3 separate regions of the Homo sapiens genome follow, and all the other regions are linked to region 2. Evidence: fine-mapped expression QTL. A gene starts in region 2. Each other region holds a variant in brackets. All regions are shown on one strand. Distances are between the middles of the regions. Region 1 overlaps SPON1 (spondin 1). Region 2 holds the start of SPON1 (spondin 1). Region 3 has its middle 7.7 kb from the start of LINC02683.

What was found. PIP is the estimated chance that this variant, and not a neighbour inherited with it, causes the effect.
Region 1: its variant is fine-mapped to the expression of SPON1 in atrial appendage (GTEx, PIP 0.96).
Region 3: its variant is fine-mapped to the expression of SPON1 in blood mononuclear cells (TOPMed, PIP above 0.99).

The regions. Positions count from the first base shown.
Region 1 is chr11:14,021,785-14,032,408 of GRCh38, reverse strand. All of the region lies in intron 2 of SPON1 (spondin 1), which reads right to left. Among named protein-coding and RNA genes, the nearest start is that of SPON1, 64 kb to the right of the region's middle. RefSeq lists an enhancer at 10,217-10,624. The variant G/A (reference allele first, on the strand shown) is at 5,476.
Region 2 is chr11:13,957,997-13,968,620 of GRCh38, reverse strand. SPON1 (spondin 1) reads right to left here and starts at 5,898. Exons shown (of 16, transcript NM_006108.4): 1 at 5,479-5,898. The coding sequence starts at 5,716. It overlaps LOC124902637 (a long non-coding RNA gene), which reads right to left and starts at 5,464. Exons shown (of 2, transcript XR_007062602.1): 1 at 3,576-5,464; 2 at 752-1,580. RefSeq lists an enhancer at 2,095-2,613.
Region 3 is chr11:13,927,939-13,937,117 of GRCh38, reverse strand. No RefSeq gene overlaps it. Among named protein-coding and RNA genes, the nearest start is that of LINC02683, 7.7 kb to the right of the region's middle. The variant T/C (reference allele first, on the strand shown) is at 6,080.

The DNA of each region.
Region 1 (10,624 bases), 64 kb before region 2:
GACACTTTTAAGAGGGGAAACAAATAAGCTTCTTATAATTACTCCATACAGATATTTGTTCATCGTAGAAAATCAGAAAACATAGGGGAGCAAAAAATATGAAACAAACGTTCCTGATCATTCCACCACCCCAAGATAGTTATTAATATTTTGGTGTATATCATTTTAGATTGTGCATACATATACATATAAAAATGTAATTCTAAAAGACAGGATTAAAGTATGCTTCCCATGTTATAACTCGTCATTTCACACCATATCACGAACATATTTCTTTTCCATTTAATGTACAATCCCAATAAAATTTTTAATGGCAGCATAATACCTCATCTTATTTGGTCCACATTTTACCTAACAAACCTCAGCACGTTGAACATTTTGTTGTTTATAATTTGGGGCTATTATGATCCCCCTTAGCTAAATTTGACATCTTAAGTTTTTTCTGGAAATGAAATTAATGTAGTTTATTATTGCTGAATCTGCCCAGGAAGGGCTTTCTAACTACTTCAGTAAAACCTGAGAGAGAATCCAAAGAAAATAATCCCAGTCATTGAATCACCTCTTACTAGTTTCCTACGTGTATTTTTTCAATCTGAAAGCCATGGAAGGAAAGACAGTTGCTTTTGTCTTTTATGAAAGGGCTTTCAATATAGATTTTTTAAAATTCAGATTTTGCCCTTATTGATTTAAAAAGTAAGTTTATCATAGAAACGTTAACCAGGACAGAAAAGTAAAGGAAAAAAAAAAATCCTCCACTGTTTGAATAATTTTGGTTTGTTTCCTTCTAGCCTTTTCTCCATGTATTCTTTAAAATTTGTTAATAGCGGTACTGATTTTGTTTATATAATGTGTCTTGTTTCTTTTTCCATTTGTCCTAGGAGCCTCAATATTTTTCCAGGTTTTTCTGAACTTAACAGAAACATAATTTGAATGGCTGCATTGACTGCGTTATTCAGTGTACTTTTTGTCAGTGGCCTCTCTTCTAAACTGTAAAGATTTAGGCTTAAATCCTGTCCCTTTTCCCTACAAATACCCCCATCTTCCAGCCTAACTTTCACAAAAGTTATAGCATCCTTTTTAAAAATATATAATTTCAACTTCAGGGTGTACATGTACAGGTTTGTTACGAATGATCCCATCACCCAGGTAGTGAGCACAGTACACAAAAGGTAGTCTTTCAGACCTTTCCCCATTAATCTCTTCCTGCTCCGGTAGCCCCTGGTGTCTATCATTTCCATCTTTATGTCCATATGAATCCAGTGTTTTGCTCCCACTTACAAGTGAGAACATGTGGTATTGGTTTTCTGTTCCTGAGTTAATTTGCTTCGGATGATGGCCTCCAGCTGCATCCATATTGCTGCAAAGGATAGATTTTATTATTTATAGCTATGTAGTATTCCATGGTATATATGTACCACATTTTCTTTATCCAGTTCACCACTGACAAACACCTAAGTTGATGCCATGTCGTTGCTATTGTGAATAGTACTGTAATGAACATATGAGTGCTTATGTCTTTTTTGTAGAACAATTTATTTTCCTTTGCATATATACCCAGTAATGGGATTGCTGGAACAAATCCTAGTTCTGTTTTTAGTTCTTGGAGAAATCTCCAAACTGCTTTCCACAGTGGACAAACTAACTTACATTCCCACCTACAGTGTACAAGTGTTCCCTTTTCTCCGCAGCCTTGCTAGCATCTGTTATTTTTTGTCTTTTTAACAACAGCCATTCTGACTGCTGTTAGGTGGTGCCTCGTTGTAGTTTTGATTTGCATGTCTCTGAACTAGCATCCCTTTTTGCATTAGCATCTCTTCAAACGGATTCTTACCTCCATCTTATTCATCTTTTAAAATCTCACTTGCTTTATTTTCTCTTCCCGGGAGTGTACCCTGTGCTTTCCAGACTTGAGAAGCACGTGGGATTGTGGGGGAGGTGACGTGGCCACGAGCACCATTGGCGGACCCTCTGGCACCGGGCATGTGGCATCCAATCCACAGAAGTTTAGTCCTGAGAAACACCAGATTGCATTTCTCCCCCAAAAGCAGATTAATCCTCCATGCTATGTGAGTTGTTTCACATATTAGGAGCACAGACAGCAGGCCAGGCTTGGGAGCAAGGCTGGGCCAAGATGCGTAGGCGCCCTGGGCAGGCTAATAACCTGGCCCCCTTTCAAAACGATATTCTCTAAATATTTGCCCAACATTCATTTGGAGGATAGGCTGAGTGCTGCGTGGGAGGAGGGCAGGCAGACTGCCAGCTCAGCACTGCTCACTCTATTAACCTGAGTAGTTCAACTGCTGCCCTAAACTTGCATACCTCACCCAGCAACTAAGAGGCCTGGAAGGTCACTGAGATACCAGCTCTTGTCACTTAAGTGCTCTTGGGGGTTTTCCCCCTACCAGGAGACAATACAAAGTCCTAGGAGAGTCCAGCAGCCTATTTATTACTGGTGTGACTCTGGCAAGTTCCTTAACTTTTCTGGACTGATTCTCCTTATCTGTAAAATGGGGACTGATAATAGCATCTACCTCAATGGGCCAGAAGTGTTTATATGAATTCATATACAAAGTTGTTAGAGAAGCTTCTGGCACAAAACCAGTGGAGACAGGAGGCAGCCAAGGGTCCCCAGCAAAACTCCATATTTAAACCTAAAACAGCCTGAAGGCTGAAAAACCTGACTACACTTCCTGGATGAAGCCACCCTTTCCTGACTGATTCTTTCTGAATAACGCCCACCTGAGCACTGGGAGAATGGGGTGGAGCCTCAGGAAGTTCAGTGGGGAGGAGCCTGGCCTCTCCCGTTGCTATGTGGTGACCTGGGATTCAACGTGTGAGGCGGGAAACCTGATAGGAGGACTCTCTCACTTTGCTGAGAGTTGCTTTTCCTTTTTCCTTTTCACCCAATAAATTCTGTTTTCCTCACCATTCTGTGTCCACAAGCCTAATCTTTTCCTGATCATGTGACAAGAGCCCGGTTTTGGCTGAACTAAGGAGAAAGTTTATCAACAAAACTATCAGTGTATATTATAATCACTGTGCATTGATAAATATTATTATTATCATTCTCGTGTCCCGCTTGCTCTCAACAATTCTGGTAAAGACCATTTTCTCCACTGTATTACATTTCCAGCAGCATTTTAGTTCTCTTTACAGACTGGTATCCAGGGTACCAGCCCAGCTGGCCTGCACCTAAATCCAGTTTGGCTTGGGAGCCTCAAGTACAATGGACAGGCTCCAGTAGAACTGGGCACACACATGCTTGTGTGTGTGTGTGTGTGTGTAGGGGTCACTGCCTGAATCATGGTGTAGTCCTCAGTTAGAATAGAAAGCCTCATCTTCCAGGTGAGAATTGGAAGATGCTGAGAAAAGTAGAGACAGACTTCGGGAAAGTGGTAATTTTTCAGGGGTGGGTAATCCTCAATAAGAAAAGAGCTATCTCCTCTAGAAAAACCAGGAAGAGGAGGAGGAATTATCCTTCAAACCAGGTGAAATGTGCTCCTGGAATCCTGAGAGGTAGCATGGGGTAGTGGGGAGAGAAGATGTGGACTTTGGAGCCAGCAGACATAGGTCTGATTTCTGCCTTAGCTACTGAATGACCTTGAGTAAAGTCACCCAACTCTCTGTGAGTACACATCCTTATGTGGAAAATGGCTACACATGATGAAAGATGTCCTGTGTACAGAGCCCAGAAGGGGACCTGGAGCTGCTAGATGCTTGATGACCATGACTTTGAGTCATTGAAGTGACAATCAGAGAATGGGCCCTGGTGGCATCTTGAGTGCCTAGAGCCTAGTAGGTGATTGATGCATATACACTGAATAAGTGGGAAGATTCTCACTGGCTATATGTAAATGCCAGTGAATCTCAGAATATCTAGTGTTTAATAAGTAAATACCCTATATTCTTTTTTAAAATTTTATTTTTATTTATTTTTGAGACAGGGTCTCACTCTGTGCCCCGGCTAGAGTGAAGTGACAAGATCATAGCTCACTATAACCTTGAACTCCTGGACTCAAGCAATCCTATCTAGTAGCTAGGACCACAGGCACACGCCACCATGCCGAGGTAATATTTTTTATTTTTTATATTTTGTAGAGATGAGGTCTATGTTGCCCAGGTTGGTCTCAAACTCCTGGGTTCAAGCAATCCTCCTGCCTCAGCCTCCCAAAGAGCTGAGATTACAGGTGTGAGCCACCAAACCTGGCACAGACTCTACATTCTTGCTAACACTTTGTATCCATTATTTCAAACAATAATCCAGTGAAGTGGGAATTATCCCCATTTTACAGATTCAGAAACTGGGACTAGCAAGTAGGGGGTCTGTATTAATATCCTCCATGACCCCAAAGCTAATAACCGCTGGATTTAACACACTGTACCCTTATTTTTCACATGAGGACCTGCTGTCAGTTTTGACTCAATACTAGAAAATCACTGATAAACAGGTTTTAAAAAATAGAACCATGTAATTGGGGGATTTTATTCAATGTAGTCTAATGCCTAGGAAATAAATCAGCCTTTTAAGTTTTATATAGCAGTACAGTTGAAATGTTTAATAATTATTGCCAGAGAACAGTATAATGCAGTACTAAAAATGAGTAATTGAAAAGCCCATCAAGGCAGATGAGGCATCTTCTTACTGAATTGCTCTTGAATACTTTACATAATTACTTCATTCAGATTTATGATCAGCTCAGCAAAACATACATCTCTCTATCCTGCTCCGCCTGAGTAGTTTGGGAAGCCTTTTTATATTGTGCTTACACCTTCAGGGATGGACAAATGAATGTCTCTTATACACTAATGGGGTTTGCAATGGTTTGATTTCATTTAGCAAAGGAAAAAGGAGCAAAAACTCAGTTTGCTGAGGTCCTTCTGTGTCCCAGTCACTGTGCTGGTGGTTTATTTGTATTAACTATGTCAGCTCATTTAAAGTCCCTGACAGTCCTGAGAAGGGATGGTGTTTTCCATCTCACAGAAGCAACTGAAGCTCAGAGGAATGTTGGAACTTGATCAGATTATTGAAGCTCATGGTAAACTCATACTAGGCAGTTTGGATCCAAACCTAGTGACCTTTCCACGACATCACCAACTTCCAGAAAGACCCCGTGTGCCCCAAGAGGGCTTGGAATTTTGGAAAGAGGCATCTAGTGAGGTCAGTCGAAGAAAACTGTTCCTAGCCAGATTTTGTTTGCAGCTCTGGCTCTTTAAACATCTGAGTTGTGGATGCTCCCCACCCCTGACCCCATTCCTTCATTTCTTACAACGCCAGTGCCTCCCGGCAGAGAGAAGTCCAGACGAGTCTCCTCAAGGGATGCAGTTTCCCATGGATTCAGTCTCCCCACTCAGCCCAGATCATCCCAGGCTGCAGGCTTTATCAGAGGCACAAGCTTATCATCTTGCCTCTCCCAGAGACTGCAGAGTGGGAGTTCTTGGCAAATTCAGTTTACTGGTAAGTGTGGACAAATGGCT[G/A]CCTGGATGAGATGACAGCCTTTGTTTCTGGTCTCACTTACATGTCAAAAGAGCCAAAAATGGGAAAAATGGGGAGAGAGGAGGAGACAAGTTGGGGTAACCTCACAGGCAGGAGAAATAATATAATCCCTTTAAAACATTTTACAATGCATTGAGAAGATTATACATAGAAGAGAAGGACTCTCCAACTCTCCTCCACCCTCGCTTAAGACAATGACATTTCCAGCAGACTGATTTTTCTTTCTCAACCTCCCTGTTATCCTTTCCTTAACCCTGAAGCTTGTTGTATTCTCTGCGTAAGTCAGCAGACATCGGCATGGGATCAAAACTGTTTGTGCACCCCGTTTCCCCCACCCCCTCGCCTTGAGAATAAACTCAGGCTCTGCTGAGGGTTATTTCAGAAGAGACTTAAACAAGTCACTGAATATCTTCCTTCTTTAGGACGTAAAAGCATGTCAGATTTCCCTCTTGTTTTAGAGTGACAATGGCAGACATCATGCACAGATGTATATCTTACTGAATATGGTACACATCCATGAACTTCCTTACACCCTTGGGAAATACCAAACTTTGATCTAATTATATTTTGACAATAAGAATCTCTCATCAAGTTATAGATTTATGGTAACACTCAAGGACTATTTGTCAAACACATCCAATGTGGTTATCAGCTGGTGGGTACTGAGCACTTACTTGCAAAACAAATCAAATATCTGAAGAGAATGCATTTTGTCTTTGTGCACCTGAAGGTGGAGGGTTGGGGGGAATACACTGATCAAATCATGCAGCAAAGAGAGCATTTCCCTCTGCTGTAGGGAGGCAATTGAGCTGGAAGCTGTGGGAAGGGAGCCGGAGGCTGGCTCCTGCCTTGCAGAGAAGCAGTGGACATGAGATGGATGACAGGAGGAAGCTCTTTCAGATAATTATTAGGAGCTGGAGAATCAGCTGTTGTGCTGTCAGTATGGTGTATTGTAGGATAAAGAACATAACAGGAAGGGAGTGGGGCTGGAAAGAACAAAGAGAGAGAAACAGGCAAAGGAACAATGGCATAGTTCTTGTCTCTGACCACGGACTATGGTCCACCTCTGTTACCCCTTTTACCCTCAGAGCAACCTCTGGGGGCTCTGGCCTTCCCAGACACTGCTCCCACTTCTTGTTCCTGGACTAGTCCTACTCATGGTCTCACCTGATGAGTCACTTCCTCTGGGAAGCATTTCCCAGCCCCAAGAACCCAGGTCTGATAGGCTGCACCCTCCACCTGCCAAACCACCACCCGCATGACCCTTTATCTTTGCCTCTCCAGCACTTCTTCACCCCACCCCTATAAGAACCACCTGGAAGGTTTGTGAAAATAGTGATGCCTAGCCCCACCCCAGAGCAGTGGAATCGACAGCTCCAGGCATGGGGCCAGGGCAGCAGTGACCTCCTAAGGGCTTCAGGTGATTTTGATGGACATTTAAGATGACAACCATCTTGCCTCTAGTTCGTCATATCTGAAAGCAGGGGCTGGTTCTACCTTGCTTACTTTTGGGTCACCAGCACCTAGCATTGTGCCTGGCACATCATATATACTTGATCAATATTTGTAGAATGAATAAATGAATTAATTAAAATTAAAGAGGTATTGCTACTCCCTTTTTAGAGAAGAGGAAATCGATTCATGAAGGCAAACTAGGTGGACTGCCATGGTAGTCTCAGAAGAGTCTGTAAGAGGAGGAATGAGAATGTAAGCTCCATGGGGGCAGGAGCCTTGTCTGTTTTATTTGACTGTGTTCCCGGTGCCTAGACTTGGGTCTGACATGGAACAGGAGCTTGGTACATGTTTGCTGAATAAATGACTGCACCCCCAGTCTCTTACTTTAAAACTCAATCTCTTCCCACTCTAGTTTGCTACCAGCCCTGCCTCTGCCATTATCTCTGTGGCTTTGCCCAAGTCACTTTTTCTCTCTAGAGATCAGTTTCCTAAAATGAGGAATTCAGATGATATGGCCTCCAGATTCTTTTCAGTTCTAATCATAGCAGACTGCCCTGATATACCTATATTGTCACTTGAAGGATGCAACTCCAGCTGTTATGCCAGCACCTTCCACACACACCAATGTCCTCACATTTCTCAGTGATGCGGAAGTAGGGCAGGGAAGCCCTGGGTAGAGAAGAGTGGGGTCCCTGGCAGGGGCTCCACCCTTGGGCCTGTGCCCATGGACCTAAGAGAGAACAGGCACTCTTGTTTTTGTGCCCAAATGTTGCATTTTCCAAGACCACTCTGGCCAGCCATGCCCCCCATCCTGTGCCCATATAAACCCGAGACCTTAGCAGGCACACACACAAGCGGCTAGACATCGGAGGAGCAGAGGACCACACCAGCAGACACTGGCAGACCAGCGATGGTGGAACAATGCGGACTCTGAGGGGAGTTCAGCCAGGGGCCATCAGAGGACAGTCTGCCACTGGGTAGCCTGACTCCAGGGGAAGACCACCTTCCCACTCCATCCCTCTTCTGGCCCCCCATCCATCTTGCTGAGCGCCACCTCCACCACTCAACAGAACCTTGCACCAAGCCCACCTGTGATCAAATTTTTCTGGTACACTGGGCAAGAACTCAGGATACAGAAAGCCCTCTGCTCTTGCGATAAGGCAGAGGGTCTACTTGAGCTGATTAACACAAGCCACCTGCAGATGGCAAAGCAGAAAGAGCACACTGTAACACACACCCACTGGGGCTTCAAGAGTCGTAAGCACTCACCCCAAGATACTGCCGTGGGGTTGAAGCCCAAAAGTGCTCCCCATGACCTCTGCACCTGTCCATCTGCATTCTCCCTTTAGGGGTTTGAGTACTAGGGCACTGAAGCAGCCAAGCCATACCACTGTCACATGCCTTGTGAGGGAGATAAGGTCCCCAAATTGCTCCTTCCAGTCTTTTTTTTTTTTCTTTGAGATGGAGTCTCGCACTGTCACCGAGGCTGGAGTGCAGTGGCCCAATCTTGGCTCACTCCAACCTCGGCCTCCCGGGTTCAAGTGATTCTCCTGCCTCAGCCTCCCAAGTAGCTGGGATTACAGGCGCCCACCACTACGCCCAGCTAATTTTTGTTTTCTTAGTAGAGATGGGGTTTCACCATGTTGGTCAGGCCGGTCTTGCACTCTTGACCTCATGATCTGCCCACCTCAGCCTCCCAAAGTGCTGGGATTACAGGCGTGAGCCACCGCACCTGGCCCAGTCTTTTTTCCATACTGCTCTTCCCTCCTTTCCTGCTTCCTGCTTCTATTATTTCTTCCTTTCGCAAGTGTTCCCAGTTGGCAGGCTGTGATCTGCAAAAGCTGACCTCCATCTCCCAGTCAGCCCACCTCCAAAGAACAAATCCATAGCTGAGAAAATGTGGTTATTAATTTATCATCTCCCTATATCCAATTCCAGAGAAAAACATCACTTTGTTGATATAGTTGTAGCACGAAGAGAGGGAACTTGTGTTGTTAATTATCTACTACACACTTGGCACTTCATTTATGTTATTTCATTTAAGCCTCACCTTTGACTGCCTGTCAGTTTTACCTTCACAGTATTTCTCTCCAGCACCCTAAAGCACCCAAACTCAATAAACCACTGCAACAACCTTCTAACTTATCTCTCTGCTTCCATACTTAGCCCCTACAATCCAATCTTCCCACAGAAGCCAGAGCGCACATTTAAAATAATAAATCATGTCACTTCCCTGTTTAAAGACTTCCAGTGGCTTTCCATTACACTTAAAATCCAAACTTTATAATGCCAGCTTGCAATTCCCCACCTAATCTGGTCCCTGCCAACTTCTCAGGCATCATCTCCTGCCACCATTTGTCTCACCCACCGAGCTCCAGTTCCTTAAACAAGCAGAGCTCCCTCCACCTCAGAGCCTTGGATGGTTCCCTTTGGCTGTCGTCATCCTACATGATCCCGCCCACAAACCTTAAGGAGTTAGGAAGGAAAAGAGGGAGGAACAAATTTAGATATGCCTGAGGCTTCCGTGGCAGCTGGTTTTCCAGTTGAACCTACATGAACCTGCTTTTAACCCTACTCCTCACCTTTGTCTTCTCAGCGTGCAGGTGGTTGCAGCAACTCAAAGCGTTCTTTGGATAAAGTCGAATGTATGGGCAAAATGTGGGTAAAGAACCCAAAACATTGCCTTCTCTTCCCTATGAAAAGGTTTCAGTAATTCATTGCTTGATTTTTTAGATGAACAGGGAAGAAAAGCTTAACTTTGAGGGAAAGAAGCTAAAGTTTATTGAGCTATGCAGCAGCCCTTTTAACATGATTTGGTTGAATCAGCTGAACAATCCACTGAAACAGGTTTTATAATCCCCATTTTATAGAGGAGGAAACAGATTCAGAGGATTTCAGCAATTTCCTGAGGACCACACGACTGTACTAATGAACAGAGCCAATATTCCACCCGGTCATATTTAGATCCCAAATCTCAAGCTCTCTTCTGCCATATCATCTTGCTTTGCTAAGTGTATCCTTTCTTCCCAGCAAAACAACCTCAGAGTAAACATCAATGTATGAGTAAGTAATGACTAAGATATAAAAGTGAGAACAGATTATTTGCCAGAAGCACATTCGAATCCTCCATTTACCTGTGCTAATTGTAATATGTTAACAACAGGCTGCTCTTAAAGATTCATTAAACTGAATCCCCTGAGGACCTGTACTTGGGAGCTCAGCTGGCTGATATTCTGAATTCCTAAATGCACTTAAAAATAACCAAATGTCTTTTCTCCCAAAGCATTTAATAGTATAGAATAGTAACCAATTCATAACGACCCTCTGCTCAATTATTGCTTTTTTTGGCTTTTTCTTTTATTCTTCCAAACGGTAAGGTCAAACTTCAACAGCATCACCTGCTGAGTCCCTCACTGGGCTCTCTTTCTGGATGTGTGTTGCCAGGAGAACAATTCTGCTTTCAACAATAAAAACAACAATCAATGCTTGCACAAAAGACTTAAGGACAATGGGAAATGTGGGTGAGTTAATTACATCCCTGGTCCCTTTGTTCTTTACAAATAAAGAGCAAGAGCGATGGGTGATCAGTGAACTTTAGAGACGCAAGCCATTGAATTGTGCTTAAGAGAACTGGGTTTCTTAGGAGTCAAATGAATGGACATCCTCTGAAAACAA
Region 2 (10,624 bases):
CTGGGTGAAATTAATTTTGTTACCAGGTATCCATTAACATAAGTGAAAATAGGCAAAATTAGTTTTAACTAGTGTATTTTACTTTATACAATTATAATTTTAATATGTAATAATACACAATTAATGAGTTTACTCTTTGTATACTAAATTTTCAACAGTCATTGTGTATTTTATACTTACAGCACATCTCCATTCAGAATAGCCACATTTCAAGTACTTCATAGCTACACACGGCTAAGTAGCCACCAACTACACAGCAGAGTGCAAGAAGATGTCAGGGAACAAGGTAGAAGGAGCCTGGTTCCTGGATGGCCTTATGGAGCAAAGCCTCCCATCATGCTGGATCTCCCATTTACCTCTTGTTTAAAACACTGTGTTTTGGATTCTGTTAGTAACATGAGCTTAGCCTGTACTATGACTAATATAACATGGTAAGAGTCCCCCCACCTCACAACAGAAATTGATATTGACCTATATATATGTGACAGTCTGTATAACAAGCAAATGGACAGTGTGAGAGTGAAAAGCTCCTGATATACCAGCCCATAGTGGTAAACGTATCAGTGATTATAGCTTCTTGATGCAACTGAAAGAGTCAGCTGTAATGAAACAGCTTATCTGTGTATGGGGGAGTACTCAAGTTTTAAACCTTGAAAAATTCCATTTTGATATGCTTTTTTGTATGTTTTTATTTCTTTCATTTCCTAAAACTCAGAGCAATAAACAATCTCCACAACCATTAAGCATTAGCTATGTTTGCATTTTCTAATTTTTATTATCAGTTTGAACTAAATACTTAAGTAATGGTTAGAAATAGTTACATAACAAAAAAGCAGGGAATGGTGCAAAAAAGGGAAGAGAGGTAGGAGGGGTGGCTTAATTATAATATCATCAGCAGCACTTAAGTTTTTAAAAACTCCACCATCCAGGAAATAGTTTATTTAAAAGACCTCATCTTGTGTAAATTTCTTAGAGCCTAAATATGTCCTTTCCAAACATATAATTTTACAGGCATGGTCATATAACATCTGTATGTAAAAACAAAACAACAGTCAAATCTGTTTTTTCTTTTTTTTTTTTTCTTTCTGGGTTTTTTTTTTCCTATCCAATTTGTTTTTGTTTCCCCACAAACAAAAGGAATTGGCCAAAGGCTGACAAGGTTCTTCATGTTTCTAAATTAATCCTCTAGTTTATGGGGAAATGCAACACTGAAGCCAATAAGAGAAAACAGCAAATGTGAATAAGGATTTATCACTTTATATTACTTTGTAGTAATATAAAGTAATTCTCCTGAGAGATGTCAGTTACTATCTTGATTTGTTGTTCTGTTTTCCTTGAAGGAAGGCTCACCATCCAGAAGGCTGAGGGTAGCTGAGTGAATTTCATTCTATTCCCAACTAATTTCATTGAGTCAGCACATAAGACTGGTTAAGAGCACAGATTTAGGAGTCAGACAGACCTGAGACTGTATCCTGATTCTGCTGATTATTAGCTGTGTGACCATGGATAAGGAATAAACTTCTCTGAGGTTTAGTCTTCTCATCCATAAAACAGTAACGATCAGAAACTTCCTCAAAGTACTGTAAGGAATAAGTGAGATGAGTCGGAAGAACTTAACACAATATCTTATCCAGGGCTTTGCTGCTAAGTATTTTTCTATTTCCAAAATAATCATCTCATAACATATTTTTTTAGCAACCACTGTGTGACAATTTCTTTTGACATGAATTATTTCTAATTCTCACAGGAATGCTGGGAAAAAATCAAAACACCCTCATTTTACAGATGGAGAAATTGGCTCAGAGAGGTGAAGTGGCTTCCTGAGATCACACAGTGAATATGTGACCAAGGAGGACCTGAAACCAACCCACCCAACATCAAAGCCTGTGCGCTTTCCACCAGGCTGAGGTGTCCACCCCTGTGGTCAGTGTGTGTCTCAGTGTGGGACAAAGGAAAAACCATGCAGCTTTGGAGGTCTCCAAACCTCCCAGTTTAGGATAAACCCCTCAATTATGCTTGAAGTTGGACCAGCTTTTGAAACCTCTACTGGACATTCTTTTCCCATCAAGTTCCTTGAAATGTCTCTTTAAAATACATCTAGGAAAAGCCACTCTCATTAGCCAGAGTCTGACTTTATTTTCCTAATAAACAGACCTCCAGTAAGACAAAAGAGCCTCTTTTATTTTCAATCAATTCTTGAATATTTCAGTGGATTTTCTTCTGTTTGGCTTGAAATTGTGATCTGGGAAAGGCTGGTCCTGCGAATTGTCCTCCTGTATAAGGGAAGCCCCTTGAGGATCCTCAACTTGTTATTTTTAATCACTGTAATCTCCTTTTCAAAGGAGGCCCTGGCCAGAAACAGAGCAGGCCTTTCAGAGCTTTCTAAAGCACAATTATTGCCGTTGGAGGGAGGGGGGACTGTGGGAAGAGGGAGGGAGAGTAGAGAGAAGTGGTGGGAAAGAAAAGGAAATCAATATAATACTAACAACTTGGAAAAGACAAAATAATGATCTCAACTGGATTCAGGTTTTGGGGAAGAAACTCCATGTTTCAGTCTTTTTTAATAGTGACCATTTTATTCCGGTCTAGAGTACCTAAAGACTGTACTTAGACAGCAGGCACAAAGAACAGAAGCTGCTTGGGGATGAACTGGAATACTGTGGACAAAGATTTGAGGCAGGAAAACAAGTCATTGATTCCAAGGATTGTGAGGAATCCTAATTCATGAAAAAATTAAAAAGCAAATAGAACACCAGGGGAATGCCAGCTTCACAGCCTTAAGTCAGGACAATGAGCAGAATGTGTTTGAGTTACTTTTAACATAATTATTCTAAGAAAGAAGGAGCCAACAGAAAATGTCACAAACTAGGCCAGTACCTTTTCTTTCGGACTTTGAGTGGCAGAATCAGGTTTGCTAATTGCAGGATATTTACTTGGAAAACCTCAGCATGGTTCCTGCAAGATCTCTTCCAAGGTCTTTTAGCCATAAGAAGGGAGAAAAGATGATTGCCCAATCTATAGCCTGAGTTGGGGTGTCAAAGTCCAGATGGCTGTTTAGGCAGGAGTAGCCTGTAGGGTGAAAGTCCAGGACACTCCCTATCCAGTCCCAGTTCCCCACCTGCTGGCCCTGGACGTTTAGGTAGTTCTGAAACCTCTTTGGCCCCGTGAATACCAGCTGTATCTCCTTCCCAGTGCTAGGGCCACCAGCTGCCAATGCTCAACTAAAACACGGAGGATTAGTGTGAAAAGAGACGCTGGGTACACTTGGCCTGAACCTCAGACTAGTCTAAGTCACTGAAAAAATCTTCCTGGGCTTGCATTAGCAACAGTCTTAGGCAAGGCTCCTGATATGAAAAAATACCTCATTCATTCATTCAATTAATTCATGAGGACCCAAATAACCACTGGTAGATGAATGGGACTGGAGGAGAGCTGAGGAAACCTGCTTTCAAACGCACAACACTCTTCAAAAACAAAAATCTGATCAAGAACCTACCTCCATTAGTAAACCAATAAAGGCCTCACATTCAACTGTTAGGCTTATTAGGAATCTCTTTTAGCTCAGGCACACTCACCTTTGTAAACTCATTTACTCCCTACCACCAAGAGAGGGTGGATAAACAGCTTTTTTTTTTTTCCAGCTAGGAAATAGGTGCAGAGAAATTAAATGACTTGCACAAGGTCACACAGCGAGTAAACCCAAGTCTGTTGGACTCCAGAGCCACTTCTTTCTCTGCTACGTGGAGCGGGGACAGTTTCCCCTGTGAACTCAGGTCCTCAGTTTTGGGGAGGGCCGAATAGGCCACTGAAGTCATACCCGCTTCCCTGCGGTCCACAGGGAGGATCGGCCGCCTCCCGGCTGCACCGAGTGGCAGTCGCCGCCCGTCGGCGCGGCTCGCTCTAGCCGCGGTGCCAAGCCGCGCGCTCCCTCCCGGGCTGGGCGGGGTGTTCTCCGCCCAGAATCTTTCTTCGTGGAGTACCCAGGATCCCGCGGAGCTGCGCGCCGGGGTCAGACTGTTCCTCGCAAAGTGCTCAGCACGCCAAGGTGCCAAGGGCACCAAGGAGCCGGCTTTGGGTAGCTCCGGGTGGAGAAAGTCGGGGACACAAACCCGGGAAAGGGGGAAAAGCGCTCCAAGAAGGGTGGCCCCTGGCTTTGGTCTCCGGCGTGACCCTGGCGCCCGCTGACGCTGCCCCAGACTTTCTCCTGTGTTGCTCCCACCGCTTCCGTCCAAGGCTCTCTGGGGAACTGGGAAGGCGAGGAGGAAAGTACAGCAGCTGGGAGCCCATTTGCCCCACCAGGTGCCCCAGTGACCCGCTCATCCCTGCTTAGCACCAGAGCTGACTTATGAAGGGGCGAGGGTGAGAGGACACGCTCCCTGGCGGGAGCTAAGGTGAGGCCAGACAGGCTCGCTTCCCTTCCTGGTTACCTGTCCCCCACCCGGAGAGCGGCTGCTGCTGCACGGGGAAACGATGTCTGGGGAGATGACCCTGCTGAGGAGCGAGGTGGCGGGCGTGGGGACAGAGTCAGGCGTCTTCAGATCGGTGCTGGTCGAACTGCCTGTCCCGCCTAGGAGGCTCTCACCTGCTTGGACACCTCCTCCCTGAGCTCCCGAAACCCCACTCTCAGCCGAGCGGCGTAGGCGCGACATCCCTGGGACGTGGAGACTCCGAGCTGCCGGAGCCAAGGTTCCCCGGCCTCCAGGGAGCAGGCCTCGGGCATCGGGGCTTCTCTTTCCATCTTCATCCAATTCCCCTTGCAGCTCGGAGCTTACCCCAAGCTCTTTGAGGACCCTGTCCCCACTGGGAACCTGTTCTGGAAACCCAAGATACTCTATCTCGTCTGGGACCACGAGAGAATAATTTGGGGTTCTTTCCAAGGACCCTTTCGAGGAGCTTTAGGCTGTCCCTGCCCCTCCTTCCCGCACCCCGGGACCGGTTAGGGAGAAGCCAAAGTCCCTTCTCCTGAAGGGACCTATCCAGGGAAGCCGGAGTGGCTGTCCCGCCCAGGGCCAGTCTTTGAGAATCGGGTACCCTCTCCTTCAGGGACTGAGCGGGGAAAGCTGGAGTGGCTGCCTTGCCCGGGACCCGACCAAGAGAAGCCTGGGTCCCCTCCAGACCGATTTGGAGAAAGGCAGTTTTACTTCCCTCCTGCAGACGGCCGGGGGAGAAGCGAGCCTCCCTTGCAGTCAGGCCGGCGTGACGTGTGGCTCAGTTACATCCTCCGCCTGGGAACCGCGCGTCGGAAACGCGGGGTGCCTCTCCTGGCTGCGGCCCCCGCGACGGCCCGGGACGCTGGATTATGATCCGCGCCGAGCTCGCGACTGCAAGGGCCGAGGGCAGCCAGGACAGAAGGGCCCTTGCCGGGCTGCACCCGCGCCACGCGCCCGGAGACCGCGCGCCCTCCTCCGGCACCGCGAGGTCGGCGCCCTCCGGGGACCGGGTCCCGCTCTCCTAATGCCACGCCGGGCGGCCACTTACCGCGGTAGCTGGTTCCCGGCTTGTAGAAGTCGGGGTCGCCCTCCACGCGGAGGCTGAACTCGGTGTAGCCCTCGCGCCGCGTGCCCTGGGCGCGCAGGATACGGCTGCAGTAGCCCTCTGACTTGGGCACTTTGTCCAGGGTCTCGTCGGAGAAGGCCAGCGCCGCGGCCAGGGGCAGCGCCAGGGCCAGCAGTGCCGGAGTCCGGCTCAGCTTCAGGGGCGCCGGGGACAGCCTCATCTTCGCGGCCCCCAACTTTGTGCCGCGGCCGCAGGCCTTCGCCACGCGACTCCTGCCCGAAGTGGTCCCGACGAAGGCGCGACCTGGCGGAGGCGCGGCGGAGAGAGGGAGCTCGGAGCTGGCGTCCGCGACTCGGAGACCGTGCCCGCCTCGGCTTGGCGGCCGCGGAGCTGCGCTGAGCTGAGCTGAGCTGAGCCAAGCGAACGAGAGCAGCGCGAGGAGGGGAGGGCCGCGGCGAAGGAGCGGGAGGAGGGAGGGCTGATTTTGCCCAGATCCCCCAGCGCAGCGCTGTTTTGTTTCCTCCGAACTGGCGATTAGCGGCGCGGCCGTGTTTATTTTGCGACGTTGGATTCCCAGGGTCTGACGAAGAAACCGTGGCATACCGGACCCTGTGGGCTCTGTCCCATCGCCTAGGAGGCTGCTGCTCCAACCCCCAGCTACACTCCGGACCCTCTGGAGGACGGCGCTCAGAGGAGGGAAAGCCTGAGAAATAACTTTTGTTGCACACCTGCTCTGTGCCTAGCAATATGCTTGGCGGCTTACTTACTGTATCGACTCGCCTTCATGTTCCCTACTCCCAATAAAGATTACATTACTTTCGCTCACTTTATAGATGAGCAAACTGTGACTTGCGACCAGTTACAGCAGGGTTAGATGCGGCGACTCCGGGCCCATTGCTCTTCCCAAGGCCATAGTGGAACATGTCAGACTGGAGGCTGAGAAAGGAGAAACGACTTAGCTACAGCGCTTAGGGCCCACGATACTTTTGGAGATCTATGAAAATGTTTTCTGTAAAAATCAGAAGAAAAAATTTATGTCAAACAAAATGTTTTACTATATAATGTTAATATATTTGTATTTATACCTCCACAGTCATAAAATATGCTTGACTTGGAGGAAAGAGCCAGCAAAGGCAAAAGTGCCTAAGGCTCAGGAAGGTCCTCCTACAGCCCAGGAAAGGAGTTTCCAAAGATTCAATGAAGAGCCTGTGTTTTCTTGGCTTACATTTTAGTTCAGATTCTCACTCCCCAGGGACAGATGTTCAGAGAGGTGCTGAGCCTGAGGGCCTGAAGGGAAAAGACCTGGGGCAAGAATCTCTCCCAGTGTCTCTCTGGGAAGAGACCCGAATCAAACCTCAGTCCTGCCACTCACCCATTGTGAAGCTTGGGCTAGTTATCGCACTCTCCAAGCTTGTTTCCTGCTCTGGAGAACAAGGAAGTGGGGGTGGGTGCCAGTACATCCTTCTTAGAGGTAGTGGGGTGATATGCTAGAAGTAAATGATATGACCCATATAAAACACTCTAGTTGGTCTCTAGTGGCGCCTGCTCCCTCACCCGCTTGGGGATACCATAAGCCCCCTGCCTCTCAGTGCACACAAACATCCCTCCCCAGGTGCCCTCAGAAGCTTTGGTTTCCTCGTCTTCTCTTTGCCCAGGGCCTTCGACACACCTCAAGTGCCTACAATTAGCAAGCAATCTCCTTTGCTTTCCAGGTCAGGGTTTTCTCTTTCATAATGCTACAAACAGGCCCAGGGCGCTAGGTGCATGGGAGATCTCCATTCCTCCCTGCCTGCCCACTTACTCCTTAGTGCTTGTGCTGGAATTCCCACTGCCACTATTAACTGGACGCCTTCTCTCAGAGGTCACCTGAAAGTAACCCCTTGCTGAAGCCAATTATGCTCTTCTCTCATCCCTAGCCCTTCTTGACCCTAGCAGCACCTGATCCAGCTGATCGGCCCTCCTTTTTGAGGTGAGGCTCAGATCCATGTCTGAGTGCTGAGGGAATTGTCTGCATCTTCACTCGACTGGCTCAGAGCTCATGCTGCACTCCAAGTTGCACGGTCCCATTCATCCAGCAAACTTTCATTAAGTGTAGATTTGGAGCTAGACTCTGTGCTGACCGGTAGGTAGAAGACGGAACAAAAATTCATCCATCCATCCATCCATGCATCCTTCTATCCATCCATTCATTCATGACAAAGACCCTCCACGTGCTCAGTGCTTGGATACAAAACACAGATATGTTACTTGCCTTTGAGGATTTTACAGGCCTGTGGCAAAGGCAAATATTAAATACATAATTATATGAATCTTTTAAAATTATAATTGTGATGTATGCTACAAACTAAAATAAGTGGTTCTTGAAAGTGTACCTGATCTTATCTCAGAGGGCAGGAAACTACAGAAATGAATAAATTGTGACCCCTGTCTTCACAAAGCTTATTTTATGTCTGAAAGCTCAAATCTGTGCTCTTGAACCTCTATTCATCTACAAAAGGTTCAAATCTAAGTTGGAGATGGGTGGGCATGAAGTAGGCAGGAATGCAATATTTAACTTTTTATTGGATATTGACAGGAAAACTATGGGAAGTAGGCAGTCCCAATTCACCTCCGCACTCCCATTGTTCAGATTAGGAGCCTATGAAATTACCTGCTGAGGTAATGTTCCATGGCTATTAAGGGAAAGAGCCAGGATTTAAAACAGGCATCCCCAACACCAAATGAGGTACTTTCCAGTACACAGTGTTCGCCCTATCATCTGGGCTATGACGGCAGGCTCTAACCAGCTCACCAAGCTCCAATCCCACTACATGAGCTAGGTTTTCCTAAACCAGCTTGGCTGTCACTCAGACCTCTGCTGTCTTCTCCACTCATCCGATCCATCACCACATCAAGTTTCACGCTCTTCTCCACCACTACCCCTGTCTGTGTTGACATCCTCTCTCATCTTCCTAACTGGGTTGCCCTTGTCTACTTGTGCTCTCCTTCCATCTGTCTTCTGCACTGAAGCCCAAGTGATCTTTTTAAAAATGCAGATTTGAATGTCAATCCTGAGGTTAACATTTTTTCTTGGTGGTTTTTCAGGGCTCTCAGAATAAAGACAGAATCTTCAGCCAGGCCTCCAAGGCTCTGCTTGATCTGCTTCTCCAGCCATGCAGCTCTTCTCTCATGGGCTTTGCCTGTGCTGTTCTCTCTGCCTGGAATCCTATCATGCTCTTTGGTCTCTCCTAGCCACCACTCTCCATTGGCCAACTCCTATGTACTCTTCAGATCTCAGTGCAAAACTGCCTCCCCAAAGAAGGCCTTTCTGATTTCCTAGAATAGATCCAGCCCCCAAAACTCTGCTGAAGCTCATGAGTACCTTTTCTTTTAATCTCCTCCTCCTCCTCCTCCTTCTTCTTCCTTCTTCCTCCTCCCTCTCCTCCTCCTCCTTCTTCTTTCTCCTTTCTCCTTTCCTCTTTCTTCTTTCTTCTTGAGGCAGGGTCTTCCTATGTTGCTCAGGTTGGTCTCAAACTCTTGGGCTCAAGCAATCTTCCTGCCTCAGCCTCCCAAAGTGTTGGGACTACAGGCATGAGCCACCACACCTGGCTTCTTTTAATATTAAGATTTATAATGACCCATTGATTTATAAGTTTGATGTTTAAAATTTTACATTTGTTCAGTATTTGTCTCCATTCTAAATTCTAAGCTCCAGAAGGGTAGGGGATGTCTATGGGGCTTACCACTGTATTTTCCGTGCACATCGTAGTGCCCGGCCCCTGGTAGGGGTTCCATAAATATTTTTTCTCTGAATAAAAACTTTTTAACAAGCCTACCCTCAGTGCCTTCTGACTCTGCCCAAATTTTAAGACTTGGCCTCTAAGGCCATCCACAATCTGGTCTCACTGTGTCCATCTGGTCATGCCTGGTCATAGATCCCAATCTGAGCTCCCAGCACCACCCAGCTGGGCTCCCCGTGTCCTCCACTTCAGTATTGCCTCAGCACCTTTGCTTACAGCTTTCTCATGGCCTGGAATGCCCTCCCTCCTCCTGCCTGATTAAATTTTCCTCCATAGAATGAGATCCTGCAGTCTCCCCTCCTGTGGACTTCAGTAGAACTGAGGAGGAGAAAAAGTTTCCCATTTTGACTACTGTGGTCCAGTGGATTGTCATGAACTATTTCATGTGTCTATTTCTCATCTCCTAGCAATGAATCCAGTTTACTTTCCCCTTAATTTCCTGTTCAGATGTTTTGTTCTTTTGTAAAATATACTGGACTTCAAGAAATCTCCTTCCAGTTTTTGTAGCCTAAGGCAGAGCTGATGTCAGTTGCTAGGGTGTTGCTAAGGAAAGTCATTTAGCCAGGGCAGATAATTAACTTTATCAGTGTGTGTGGGTAGGTCGCAGAAGAGAAGAGCTGGGGGCTCCAGTTCTCCAAGGCGAGAAAAGTCCTTTGATTCATAGGAGGTAAGATCTCCCTCTTTTTTCTCCCCGCTTTAAGAGAGAAGGGGGAAAAGGATTTTCTAGATTAGTGTTTTTCTGAGTATGGTCATTGAAACATGAGCATCAGATGTTTGCTTCAAAGGCAGATTCCGAAACCTCATCCCAGACCTACTAAATCTGTACTTTGAAGAAAAACTCATACTGAAGTTTAAGGAACCGTCGTCCTAGACCGTAATTCAGACTTGAAGTACATGGGTTCCAGGCTGGCTCTTCTGTTTTCACCATGTGAAGCTGTGCAGTCTTGGAAAGTCACAGGACCTATCTACACGGATTATGTGCAAAATTGGACATAGTAATACCCATCTTGCCTACCTTGTGGGATTTTGAGAAACAAATGGGTAACTGAGATAATTTGTAAACTGCAATGAGGTCACAATAACCCCACCCAGTTATTATTGTTACTTTTATTAATTCAGAAAAAGAGTCTAGAAACTTTATGTTTTTGTTTCTCTTATATATAGAGTTAAATTGGACATTTTATAGAAAGGGATTTCTAGAGAAAGAAAACAGATAGGCAATGAAGGAGTTGAATTGCACTGAATAATCTATTGTAATCTGTGGTGAGGAGGCCTGGAAGCTGTCTACAGGTGAGCCAGCAAGTTTAAAGACTAAGTTATGGAAACTGAATACATACGTACATACGGTA
Region 3 (9,179 bases), 31 kb after region 2:
ATAATGGTAAAGGGATCAATTCAACCAGAAGAGCTAACTATCCTAAAGATATATGCACCCAATACAGGAGGACCCAGATTCATAAAGCAAGTCCTTAGAGACCCACAAAGAGACTTAGACTCCCACACAATAATAATGGGAGACTTTAACAGCCCACTGTCAACATTAGACAGATCAACGAGACAGAAAGTTAACAAGGATATCCAGGAATTGAACTCAGCTCTGCACTAAGCGGACCTAATAGACATCTACAGAACTCTCCACCCCAAATCAACAGAATATACATTCTTCTCAGCACCACATTGCACTTGTTTCAAAATTGACCATAGTTGGAAGTAAAGCACTCCTCAGCAAATGTAGAAGAATAGAAATTATAACAAACTGTCTCTCAGACCATAGTGCAATCAAACTAGAACTCAGGATTAAGAAACTCACTCAAAACCACTCAACTACATGGAAACTGAACAACCTGCTCCTGAATGACTACTGGGTACCTAACAAAATGAAGGCAGAAATAAAGGTGTTCTTTGAAACTAATGAGAACTGCTGGGCGTGGTGGCTCATGCCTGTAATCCCAGTACTTTGGGAGGCCAAGGTGGGTGGATCACGAGGTCAGAAGATCGAGACCATCCTGGCTAACACGGTGAAACCCTATCTCTACTAAAAATACAAAAAATGAGCCGGGCGTGATGGCGGGCGCCTATAGTCCCAGCTACTCGGGAGGCTGAGGCAGGAGAATGGCGGGAACCCGGGAGGCGGAGCTTGCAGTGAGCCGAGATGGCGCCACTGCACTCCATCCTGGGCAACAGAGCAAGACTTTGCCTCAGAAAAAAAAAAAAAAAAAAAAAAAAAACAAAGAAACTAATGAGAACAAATATACAACATACCAGAATCTCTGGGACAAATTCAAAGCAGTGTGTAGAGGGAAATTTATAGCACTAAATGCCCACAAGAGAAAGCAGGAAAGATCTAAAATTGACACCCTAACATCACAATTAAAAGAACTAGAGAAGTAAGAGCAAACACATTCAAAAGCTAGCAGAAGGCAAGAAATAACAAAGATCAGAGCAGAACTGAAGGAGACAGAGACACAAAAAACCCTTCAAAAAACCAATGAATCCAGGAGCTGGTTTTTTGAAAAGATCAACAAAATTGATAGACTGCTAGCAAGACTAATAAAGAAGAAAAGAGAGAAGAATCAAATAGATGCAATAAAAAATGATAAAGGGGATATCACCACCAATCCCACAGAAATACAAACTGCCATCAGAGAATAATATAAACACCTCTATGCAAATAAACTAGAAAATCTAGAAGAAATGGATAAATTCCTGGACACATACACCCTCCCAAGACTAAACCAGAAGGAAGTTGAATCCCTGAATAGACCAATAACAGGATCTGAAATTGAGGCAATAATTAATAGTCTACCAACCAAAAAAAGTCCAGGACCAGAGGGATTCACAGCCAAATTCCACCAGACATACAAGGAGGAGCTGGTACCATTCCTTCTGAAACTATTCCAATCAACAGAAAAAGAGGGAATCCTCTCTAACTCATTTTATGAGGCCAGCATCATCCTGATACCAAAGTCTGGCAGAGACACAGCAAAAAAGAGAATTTTAGACCAATATCCCTGATGAACATCGATGCAAAAATCCTCAATAAAATACTGGCAAACTGAATCCAGCAGCACATCAAAAAGCTTATCCACCATGATCAAGTGGGCTTCATCCCTGGGATGCAAGGCTGGTTCAACATACACAAATCAATAAACATAATCCAGCATATAAACAGAACCAAAGACAAAAAACACATGATTATCTCAATAGATGCAGAAAAGGCCTTCGAAAAAATTCAACAGTACTTCATGCCAAAAACTCTCAATAAATTAGGTATTGATGGGATGTATCTCAAAATAATAAGAGCTACTTATGACAAACCCACAGCCAGTATCATACTGAATGGGCAAAAACTGGAAGCATTCCCTTTGAAAACTGGTGCAAGACAAGGATGCCCTCTCTCACCACTCCTATTCAACATAGTGTTGGAAATTCTGGCCAGGGCATTCAGGCAGGAGAAAGAAATAAAGGTATTCAATTAGGAAAAGAGGAAGTCAAATTGTTCCTGTTTGCAGATGACATGATTGTATATTTAGAAAACCCCGTCGTCTCAGCTCAAAATCTCCTTAAGCTGATAAGCAACTTCAGCAAAGTCTCAGGATACAAAATCAATGTGCAAAAATCACAAGCATTCTTATACACCAATAACAGACAAACAGAGAGTCAAATCATGAGTGAACTCCCATTCACAATTGCTTCAAAGAAAATAAAATACCTAGGAATCCAACTTACGAGGGATGTGAAGGACCTCTTCAAGGAGAACTACAAATCACTGCTCAATGAAATAAAAGAGGATACAAACAAATAGAAGAACATTCCATGCTCATGTATAGGAAGAATCAATATCGTGAAAATGGCCATAATGCCCAAAGCAATTTATAGATTCAATGCCATCCCCATCAAGCTACCAATGACTTTCTTCACGGAATTGGAAAAAACTACTTTAAAGTTCATATGGAACCAAAAAAGAGCTCGCATTGCCAAGTCAATCCTAAGCCAAAAGAACAAAGCTGGAGGCATTACAGTACCTGACTTCAAACTATACTACAAGGCTACGGTAACCAAAACAGCATGGTACTGGTACCAAAACAGAGCTATGGACCAATGGAACAGAACAGAGCCCTCAGAAATAATACCACACATGTACAACCATCTGACCTTTGACAAACCTGACAAAAACAGGAAGTGGGGAAAGGATTTCCTATTTAATAAATGGTGCTGGGAAAACTGGCTAGCCATAGGTAGAAAGCCGAAACTGGATCCCTTCCTTGCACCTCATACAAAAATTAATTCAAGATGGATTAAAGACTTACATGTTAGACCTAAAACCATAAAAACCCTAGAAGAAAACCTAGGCAATTCCATTCAAGACATAGGCATGGGCAAGGACTTCGTGTCTAAAACACCAAAAGCAATGGAAACAGAAGCCAAAATTGACAAATGGGATCTAATTAAACTAAAGAGCTTCTGCACAGCAAAAGAAACTACCATCAGAGTGAACAGGCAACCTACAGAACGGGAGAAAATTTTTGCAATCTACTCATCTGACAAAGGGCTAATATCCAGAATCTACAAAGAACTCAAACAAATTTACAAGAAAAAAACAAACAACCCCATCAAAAAGTGGGCAAAGGATATGAACAGACACTTCTCAAAAGAAGACATTTATCCAGCCAAAAGACACATGAAAAAATGCTCATCATCACTGGCCATCACAGAAATGCAAATCAAAACCACAATGAGATACCATCTCACACCAGTTAGAATGGCAATCATTAAAAAGTCAGGAAACAAGAGGTGCTGGAGAGTATGTGGAGAAATAGGAACACTTTTACACTGTTGGTGGGACTGTAAACTAGTTCAACCATTGTGGAAGACAGTGTGGCGATTCCTCAAGGATCTAGAACTAGAAATACCATTTGACCCAGCCATCCCATTACTGGGTATATACCCAAAGGATTAAAATCATGCTGCTATAAAGACACATGCACACAAATGTTTATTACGGCCTATTCACAATAGCAGAGACTTGGAACCAACCCAAATGCCCATCAATGATAGACTGGATTAAGAAAATGTTGCACATATACACCATGGAATACTATGCAGCCATAAAAAGGATGAGTTTATGTCCTTTGTAGGGACATGGATGAAGCTGGAAACCACCATTCTCAGCAAACTATCAGAAGGACAAAAAATCCAAACACTGCATGTTCTCACTCATAGGTGGGAATTGAACGATGAGAACACATGGATACAGGAAGGGGAACATCACACACTGGGGCCTGTCGTGGGGTGGGGGGAGGGTGAAGGGGGGAGAGATAGCATTAGGAGATATACCTAATGTAAATGACGAGTTAATGGGTGCAGCACGCCAACATGGCACATGTATACATGTGTAACAAACCTGCACGTTGTGCACATGTATCCTAGAACTTAAAGTATAATATAAAAAAAAAAAAGAAAGAAAACGAGAAATTCCCTTGAGACAAGGATGAAAAGGAAGGAGAAAAAGGAGAGAGAAAAGAGAAAAAAGGACAAATTAGAGAGATGGAAAAACGCTTCCACTAAAACTAAGCAGGCTGGAGTGTCAGAAAATACACAGAGTCTGGAGTAAAGTTCCCCTACCCACTTCAAAGTACAACTCCACCACTTGATAGTTAGACAATTTGGACAAGTCACTTAATCTTATCTGCAAAATGGAGAAAATCATAGTTTCTGATTCATAGGGTTATTACAAGGATTAAATGAGCCAATGTAGGAAAAGTACCTAGTTTAGTGCCTAATAATTAGGTACAAAATAATCATAGTAATCTGTAATTATTATTACACACGCTTAATAATAGCTATAATATAATAATTATAAATATATTATGATTATAATATCTTCATTGTTGCTATTATTATGATGATTATCTAAGCACTAACCTAGGCAATTTCCATAGGTATTGGAAACTGACCGGTTTCAGACACTCCACTCTAGTCACCACCCTGCTATTTTATTACTATAAAAATATTTGTAGTATAAATATGAATATATTTTAAAGTGTTATATTTGTAGTAATAAAGCAGCAGGATGGTGACTAGAGTGGAGTGTCTGAAACTTGTCATGCCTCGAGGTGAGTCTAGGGCTGCTATATACTACCTGTATTATTTAAACACGCAGGGGTTCCATTTTCTCATTGATTAAAGATGGGATAAAAATAACTGACTAGCAGAGTGTATGTAAAGATTAACTAGCATAGACAAAAGCCTTTAGCACAGTGCCTGGCAAATAGAAGTTGAAATAGTAGTAGTTGCAATAGCAACTAATTTTCAGTGAGTGTTATTATGCCAGGCCATGGGCTAAACACTTAACATATATCTCCTTTTAATCTTTACAAACGCTTATGAGGAAGCTGTTATACACGTTTTATAGGCAAGGCAACTAAGGCTTAGATGAAACTACATGACTTGTGCTAGCTCACACACCTTGTAAGTTAGGATCTGAATCCAAAACTCTCTGGCTCTTGGTACCTACTAGCTTTCACAAGCTGCTTCTTCTTTTAAATTATTATATTACTTCATTCCATCTTTATTTTTCCCACTTGTCATGCAGAATTACTGTTGGTCATGTCTGTGTCTGTTTTCCTCTGTAGACTGAAATCCTGGAGCTTATTCTTATCCATATTCCCATGATACACGCCCTTCTTCCCCAGCATACTCTCTCCAGTCCACACCCCTAAGCACATGGCAAACCTTTGTTGAGGTACGTGCTCTTCCTGGGCCAACTCCCACCCTGCACCAGTCCTCCTCCGCTTAGCCTGGGCTCTAGTCTCCCCTACAGAGTGTTCTGCTCCCATCTTGTACCCACAAACAATGTCACCTGCAGCAGCAGCTGCACCAGCTGCAGCCCCCTCTTCTGGTGCTAAGCATCAACCTCCCATTGCTGTTCCTTGGACTCTGAGGTGCCCCCCAGGCTTCTGTGAACAAAACTTTGGCCTCTATCCCTATCTTCTTCTCACCCGTCCATTGATTTCTCCACACCTCCAGCCAACTTCCAGGGTAGAGGGGAAGAGGTGGTCTTAATGCTGTGGCGAACTATGCCCTCATCCCTCTACTCCTGAGGTCATACAACACAACCTGGACCACCTATTATATGGCTATGGCAAAGCTACTAACCCCAGGGATATGCCAATGAAACGAAGACCCTATGAATCTTGCAGAGGAGGTCTGGCACACAGGTGGGAAAGTCAGCTAGAAAGAACCTGTTCATCTAATCCTACTGATTGACATTTTATATCCAGATCCAGTGGTTACATAGCCTTTATACCTTTATACGTTATCCATCTCAGTAGCATTTGTTGGTCACCAGCATTGTGCAGGGCTCTAGGACAACAGTGATTAAAAAACAAAAACAAAACAAAACAAAAAAACCAATTCTTGTTCTCAGAGAGCTCTCACTCATCTGGTCCATA[T/C]TCAAATTGATTCAAGTTCACTGTGGCACTAATCATCCTCTTAACTATAATTATACTTTACTTATGGTTTTTACTTTTTTATTTTTATTATTTTTTTTTTGAGGCCAGGTCTCACTCACATTGTGCAGTGGCGCTATCTTGGCTTACTGCAGCCTCCAACTCACAGGCTCAGGTGATTGCTCCTATCTTAGCCTCCCGAGTAGCTGGGATTACAGGCTTGTGCCCCTACACCCGGCTAGCTTTTGTATTTTTAGTAGAGATGGGGTTTCACCATGTTGCCCAGGCTGGTCTTGAACTCCTGGGCTTAAGTGATTCTCCTGCATCTGCCTCCCAAAGTGCTGGGATTACGGGCATGAGCCACCCTGCCTGGCCTAGGTTTTTATTTTTAAAAATCCAATAGAGAGCCAGGCCATCTGCATGGATTACCTTTCATGGCATTTAGCTCAGTGCCATGGGCCTGAAGGCAATTAATATTGAACTTTCTGGAAGTTCCAGACATTTTCTTTCAGTCATCCTAGTAAGTGTCTTAATGTGATAATAGGTTAATTGATTTTTGTATATTAATCACCCATCAGACGTTTATTGTGAAATTCAATTTCAGCTCCACCAACCACATGACCTTGGGCAGGTTGCTTCATGTCTGTGAACCTCAGTTTCCACACCAGTTAAAGTAGGAATAGTAAAGCCGTCTGCATAGACTTTGTCTAATAATTAAATGGAATTCCAGGGCAAAAGGTTGTATATACTCCCAAAATTCTATTCAGTCACATTTTTTTTTTCAGCGTGTACCACGGTCTTGGGACCACTAAAAGAATAACACACAGTCCCTGTTCACTCCAAATCACAAGTCAGTGGGCAGAAACAGATATAAGTAAGCAAGTAGCTATAATACATTTAGGTATCTCAGAGTTCTTCCAGGACAGCAGGGAGAAAGGGAATCAATATTGACTTAGGATCTAACATGTGAGTTTGAAAGATCCTTAAGGAGAGTCGTCCTGGGGTGTGTTCATATGTGTGTCTCCATAAGCTCATACTTATTTTGGACTTAGCCTTCTCCATGGCCTGGTTCCCTAGATGTCTGATTTTTCTTTAATAAGTACCAGGAAGCCAATCCCGACTAACTGCATCCCCTAGAACAGCCGAGAATGCTGATGACCACTTAGCACATTCTGAAACCATCAGCCAAATCTGGGGCCGGATAAATGTGCAAAGAAGGGCTCCCTGTTGACCCTTCCCCTGAATGCTTTTCCCAGCCCTGCTGTCTCCTGCTGCCCAGTAACTTGTTGCCGTGGGAGACAAGTGTACTTAGTGTGACAAGTCACATTGCACCCTGGGACTCTTCAATACCGTGTCAGGCTGACCCCAATGCTATGCCAACTCCACCAAATTATTGAGGACAGAATGCATTTGTGTTTAAATGCAGCACACATCTCTATGAGACCTTCCCTTGAATAATCATATTGTCTTTTCCCCTCCTTACAGGAGCCTGCAGAGGGATGGATCTTGCCTGGTTGGCACCTCTGTGGGTGCCTGGGTTGATTCCTCTGCTGCCACCCCCATCCCCTGGGTGTCATGTTCCAAACCCACCCAAAGACCAGACAGATGGGCCCCTTTCTTGGTGAGACAAGAGACACTTGCAGAATACAAATCACCACCCTGCATTAGGCTCCCCAACAGCACTAGAAATGGAAGCGAAAGAGATAAGCAGAATCCAGCTTTTAAGACTTCAGTTGTTAAAGTCAATGGATGGAATTCGTGTAAAAGGAGGCAAACGCTTTTCTGCAGTTTGGCCTGAGGTTTTTTTTTGTTTTGTTTTGTTTTCCTTTTTTCCTTTTTTTTTTTCCTTCCCAGCAGAGATAAATTGCGACATTTGGCAGCCCTTAAAATGTATCACATGCCTTTGTAATGATTTGCTTATAGAGTTTTTATGGATAATAACAACAACTAATATTTATTGAGCACTAACTACATGTCAAGCAACTAATATATGTTTATGTCTTTTAATCCTTATGTCAACACTATGAAGTAGGTTCTTGGATTAACCTCTCTTTATAGATTAGGCATGTGAAGCGTAGGAAGTGTGATTCATTTGCCCAAGGTCACATGGTAAGTGGGGGAGGTAGCACTCAAACTCAGGATATCTAACTCCAGATGACACGTTGTTAACTCTTGTGTGTTATACTGTTGCTAGAGAGGCAGCCTGGCCTGGGAGAGCAATGAAGTGTGACAGTTCTCTGCCACTTACCAGCTGTGTGACTTTGGGATGGTTACTTAAGTCCTCTGTAAAATAAGGATGATAATAGTATCTACCTCATAGGGTAGTATTACTAGTGACGGATTTGATACATATAAAACATTTAGTATCATGCTTGGCTTAGAGTAAGGATCCAATGTATGTTAGTTATTTGTATAGACAGTAATCCCCTCCAGTTTAGGATCCATGTCTCAGTCCTCTTTGAATCTTTACTCCCAACACATAGCACAGTGCAAAGTCCACAGTAGAAATGGATTCAACATTACTGGAATAAATTAGGAGATTAAATATTCTACAAGATAGTTAAAATGAAACCTTATTTTTATAGGTGATTTATTATTTACAAAGTGCTGTCATTTAGTTTAATTTGGCATAAGGTTTGTTTTTAAGTTAAAACACCAAGAAAATTTGACCCAGCAATTCCACTCCTAGGTGCATATGTATACACAAGAGAAATAAAAACATATGTTTGTGCAAAAACTTGCTCATGATTGTTCATAGCAGCATTATTCATAACAGTCAAAAGGAAGAAACAACCCAAGTGTCTATCAACTGATGAATGGATAAACCAAGTGCGGTATAGCCATACACTGGAATATTATTTGGCCATAAAAAGGAATGAAGTACTGAAACATGCCACAACATGGATGAACCTTGAAAACAGTGTGCCTAGCGAAAGAGCCCATTACAAAAGGCCACATATTTTAAGATTTCATTTACGTGAAATGTTCAGAATAGGTAAATCTATGGGGACAGAAAGTAGATTACTCATTGCCGAGGGTTAGGTGCATGGGGGTGTTTAGGAAGGGATTGATTACTAAAAAATATGGAGTTTCTTTGAGGGTG